2 separate regions of the Homo sapiens genome follow, and region 1 is linked to region 2. Evidence: fine-mapped expression QTL. Tissue or cell type: cerebellum. Region 2 holds a variant in brackets; the other region holds the start of a gene. All regions are shown on one strand. Distances are between the middles of the regions. Region 1 holds the start of EPHA3 (EPH receptor A3). Region 2 has its middle 380 kb from the start of EPHA3.

Region 1 (2,500 bases), 380 kb before region 2:
TTCTGAAGTTGTGAGAGGAATATAATAATCTTGTTTTCTTTTTAGTATAAGAAGAGATAGATGGGCGGAAGGATATCTGAGTAACCATTTTCTGGGAGATATTTTAAAGATAAGTGATGCTGGTTATTAAAATATAAATTACAAAATTGTTTGGCTGAACTAGATTGCAATAGGTTGTTCAGCAATGGGATTGGAAATAACAGAGACCATTGATAGTCATGGTGTAAAATAAGTGAGAAAGTACGAGGACATTATTATTTAGCTTTTGGATTTGGAATGTTAAAGAATAAGAATACCCCAATATTATTAGACTATCAGTGGTTGAAAGTTGAATGGAGGAGCTGTGAATTATGCATTGTTTCTCTTGCAGAACCCAGAGATCCTAATGTGAGATGGTGAGGGAGGGGGATATGTATTATTAAGAAATTTAGGTTTGATCTGTATTACTTTTACAACACAGAACGAGAAAAGAATGTAGACCTCCGGCTGGGGTTAGACTTGCTCCCTTCCGTAAGATGATGAAGGTCAACTTCCCTGTTTGAAAAAAAACAAAGTATGCTCTATGTGCGCGGAAAATCACTGTGCCAGATCTAGTAAAAAGCCACGATACCATTGGGTGTGGAAATGCAGAGACCCTCTGATTCAGGCTGTGTATTAGTGTCTTTCTGAATCACAAAGAACTCATGGAGAGTTATGATCACATTGAACACAGTAAAGGAATAACTATAATCATTTTTTTCAATTATACAAACATGATTGACTTTTTAACGAAAGACTGCTATTCTTTCAAAACACACGTTTCTCTCGCATTTCAGTTCCTTTTGCACTCACATTGCCATATGATACTCCTATCAAGGCTGTGATTTCTTCGGTGAATTAAGCAACAGAGCATGGATAGCAAACAATAAAACAGCTACTTTTCATGCAACACAAAAGAGGGAGCATTTTTCTCAGCACCGCGGCCTCATCACATCTTCTGTGTTTCCTGTCCCATGGGCGACGCCCCCACTCCCACCCGGTCTCCTTCCCGAGCAGCTCTGGGCTGCAGAGCCAGCTGCGTGCCATCCCGCTCTGCTTCAGCGCACGCTGAAGACGGCACTAGGACCCAGGGAAGTCCCCGAGCGGGGTTCGCGGAAAGGCAGCCAGACTCCTCCTTATCTCCAGTGTCAAACTTGACATCAGCCTGCGAGCGGAGCATGGTAACTTCTCCAGCAATCAGAGCGCTCCCCCTCACATCAGTGGCATGCTTCATGGAGATATGCTCCTCTCACTGCCCTCTGCACCAGCAACATGGATTGTCAGCTCTCCATCCTCCTCCTTCTCAGCTGCTCTGTTCTCGACAGCTTCGGGGAACTGATTCCGCAGCCTTCCAATGAAGGTAAGCCAGGTACCGCGACGCACGGAGCTCTGCCCCGCGGGGCTCACGCTCTTCAAAGCACGTTCTCACCGAAGCCTTGCACGTCGGGAAGGTGCCTCCGAATAGAGCAGTTTGCTCTGAGAGTGAAGGAAAGATGTGCCTTTTTTTTTTCCAACTGTCTTCTAAAACACTTCAGGAGATAATTTTAGATGGTCTAAACTTTGAAAATGTGTTTTTAATCTGACACCATTTCGAGCAATTACCTTGTTTGCCAATTTGAGCAGAAAGAAAGAAAGAAAATCCTCCAGCGTTGCAACCCAGTTATGTTAATTGCCAAATAGCCAAGGCAGTATTTTATTTTCTAATTATGACCATGTGGTACTCCGAGAAGTTTGAAAGAAAATTCAGCCTTCCTCTCTAGACTCTTTAGTATGTTTAAAGGTAATGACAGGTTGTTCCTACTTGGGATCATGGCATTTATGAATGGACTAAAGGGAAATCAGAGTTTGTCGAAGCGGAGGTGCGTGTTTATGGTGCAAGGGCTGTGTTGAAGTTGTGTGTATCCCGCCAGGCAATGGTTTGCTCTATGGTACAGGTTCTAAAGAGCAGCATATGCCACATTAACGTAAGTAATATTTGCAAGAATTACAATAAGCTTAGGTTGGATTCTCTTTGTTTAAAGGCTTATATACAAATAGGAGAATGTATTTAATGAATAGTGGATAGCTCCTGGGAAGATATAGTAAATAACTGAATAGTAGATTAAGAGAGAATGTTCATATGCAGCAAATGGCATTTCCTTGATGTTGTGTTATTTATTATCCTTGTAATGAGCATTAATTCCTTTTCAGTGGGTTAAAGTGCAAACCTAATGTTAAGGACACCAATGTGTTCTATAAGATTGTGTACTTAATACATACATTTTCTTTCTCCTGTATTCCTTTTGTGATCTATTCTTGTGAATACAGTCACTAACTCGTAAAACAAACTTCTCTAAATAATTGATTAGTGTAAAGCCACACTTACAACATTAATTTCCTCTTAGTGATTTTGAACTTATAACAGTAACATTTAGCAATTTATTTTGCAAGTTAACAATACCGAGCAACTGATGTGCAAACATCATGTTATATACATCACTCC
Region 2 (3,038 bases):
GATATACATCTACCCCAGGATGGTGGTAATAGAGATGTGAAGAATGGAAAGCATACAAAAATATATAAAAGAAAGAGGATTAACAAAATTTACCGATTTGTTCTGAGAATTCTTCGAAAGATAGAAATCAAAGCAAAACAAAAATTTAGGTCTTGAGTGTCTGTGGAAATGATGGCACCATTAGTCCAAGTAGAGAATAAGGAGAAGTCAGCTTAACATCATGGGTTTGTCAAATATATAGTGTAAGCCAGACTTTAATAAGTTACTAAGTATTGGGGATGAGAATCTGAAGCTTTAAGAAAAAGAATTCAAGGGTAAAAATGTATATGGAAAGATGTCTTTGAAAGTATGTAAAGATCTACATTACAAATATTTATGTGTTTCCTATATAGACATATATTTTTCTTGGAAGACCTCTTAGGTTAATGCTAGCTACATAGTTAAGTTCTCAAATATTATCAACTTAAAATAATAAAAATATGTTTTTTAACACAGAATGATCCAAAGTAGGTGTTTGCCAGGTGGCCTTCTTTGCAATAATTAAGAATCTACACTTTCTCCATCTTGTCGAGCCTTGAAATCCTCTACTTCCAGCCAGGAAAATGAAGGAGAGGATCATTTGGGGGGATTTTATGAACTCTGCTTGTAAGTGGTACATACCACTTCTTCTCTGGTTCCACTGGCAACAACTCAACCACACTGGCATACTTAACTGCAAGAGAACATAAAGAGAGTTGTCTGACAGTGTGCCTAAATAAAAATGGAAAATTTCTGGAATTTATATCACAATCTCTGCCACAACTCCTTTTAACATAAATAATATGTCAGAGGCAGATTGTTCTAAAAAGCTTATCAGAGAAACATCAGTTTCTTGCTAACTGTGCCAATTTCTTTTCCTCTATAGGCAACCATTTTTCATTCTTTTCTCTTATTACATAAATCCAATACCTCTACTAATGGCACTTGTCAGCTATGTGAGTACACTGCTCAGATTTCCTTTCAAGAGAGTTTCTTGCAAGAGAGCAGTTAGCTGACAACTGTGAGCTGCTATATTTTCAAAATCCCCAGCATATTTTTAGCAGGCCATGCTCTACCTTGGTTAATGCCTGTCAATGACTGAGTATGGTGGAAGTACTAGTGCCAGGCCATTTCTTCACAAGTGGTAAATCCCTTTAACAAGCGTATTTTGTGTTCTAATCATCCTGACTGAAGCTTGCTCAGGCATACCCTACAGTCTGATCTCCCTACTACTCAATTTTCCTTCCTTCACTCTTTCCTTTTATAGGTGTCAGAACTGTATTTCTATCTGCAAGCTCCTTGTGTTTTCTCTTAAACCCTGTTCCAATGATGTTACCCAGGCATTTCTAGCAAAAAATATTTGCGGGTTTAATTCTTTCTGTGTCTGATTCTTGAAAATCTTAAACTTAGATGACTCTCAAGTTGACTCACTTGGAAAACTAAAATGTTATCCTTCATTCTTCTCTCTGCCTTTTCTTCAGTGTCTAACTGATCCCCTAACAATGCCACCTTAGAAACGCTCACTCTCATCCCTTTTCTCTACTGCCCAGCAGAATCTCTGTTGGATCCTCATTACTTTTCTGAGTTACAGA[T/C]GGAATTTCTTAAATTGTGCCCCTGATTCTAGTCTTGATATCTTCAACCTACAAAAGTAGGTTGAATATGCAGCCAGACTAATACGGCAAAGTTAATGTTGTAGTTCCTCCTCAGGAGGCTTGCAAACGCAAATGCCTCAGGGAACTGGCAGGTTATATAAATGAGTGAAGCAAGTGAAGAGTGTGGTGACCCATAAAAGTGCCTTTTCTTCCACGAAAAGCAAATTTCTCAGGTGTAAGGCAACACCGATCCAGTATGAATTCCTGGTTTTTCCTTTTCTTTGTTTTTAAGGTTTAAGGAAACTAGGTTTTAATTTTTTAAGTTTTTGTAGGTACATGGTAAGTGTATATATTAATTCTTGATTTTTCAAGAGAATCCTTAATCTGAGTCTTTGTGGAAAAATTTCTATATATTTAAATTATAACCCACTTATTTATGAACACACACACACACACACACACACACACACACACACTCTGAATTTACCCTGCAGCTGCCAACTTTTTATTTCTAAAATACAGACTACTCATTGGTATTGGCACATGAGACCTATCTTGAATAAAACCCGGCTTCTCTCCTTATTTTCTGGTTAACCCACTACCTCCTTACACTCTATACAACTGTACTGACCCACTTGTAGTTCTCTGAGTATTCCACTTTCTTAATGCATCATAGCTTTTGACTTTTTTGATCTTTTGTCTAGAATCACTTAGCCAATCTCTAATCATTCTTCAGGTCCTCTTATATCCCTAAAAACTGGGTTAGGTAACCCTTCCTCGTGCAGCAGTAGAACCCTGTACTTAATACTGACACACACTATCTTAACCAAAATTGCCTATTCTTTATGCCCTATCTTTACTTCTAGCTGAGGACACCTTGAACTGTGTTTTGCAAACCATTGTTGTTGCATCACCTATTGCAATTTTCCTGGTATATAATAAACACAAAATTTTTTTGAGTTGAATTAATATATTAAAACAATGTTTGATGGCATTATAAATGGCAATGTATCTGATTATTTTTTCCCCGTAGGAAAAAGTGTAAATTTCCTTCAGCTCAATAAAGCTAGTTAATGTTCTAGTTATATATCTTGGATCATTGAATATACTGATCTCTGCTAGAACTGGTTCATTTTCATAGAATTTTGTGGACTTGTTTCATTGGTCTCAATGCTCCCACTTTTCTTAGTGCAGTTAAGTTGTTTAAGTAGACCCTTGAACCAGAGCTTAGCTATAAAAATTTAACAAGGTAAATGCCAAAGCTTTTCTGATCCTTTCTACTTTCTCACTATGTACAAATAATGTCAACATGCCTACTAAAAGCTACCCTTCTTATGAGGCTTCTGGGATGCACATTCTGTTGACACACAGGCTCTAGATGCCATTTGGGAAAATAAGTGGTGGAGTTAGATATGCCATAAAATGAAG

What was found. PIP is the estimated chance that this variant, and not a neighbour inherited with it, causes the effect. A credible set is the group of variants that fine-mapping cannot tell apart.
Region 1: EPHA3 starts here. The variant in region 2 is the best candidate, but not a certain one, in a credible set for the expression of EPHA3 in cerebellum (GTEx, PIP 0.60).

Annotation. Positions count from the first base shown.
Region 1 is chr3:89,106,459-89,108,958 of GRCh38, forward strand. It overlaps EPHA3 (EPH receptor A3), which reads left to right and starts at 1,163. Exons shown (of 17, transcript NM_005233.6): 1 at 1,163-1,378. The coding sequence starts at 1,291. RefSeq lists an enhancer at 1,005-1,144.
Region 2 is chr3:89,483,617-89,486,654 of GRCh38, forward strand. No RefSeq gene overlaps it. Among named protein-coding and RNA genes, the nearest start is that of EPHA3, 380 kb to the left of the region's middle. The variant T/C (reference allele first, on the strand shown) is at 1,611.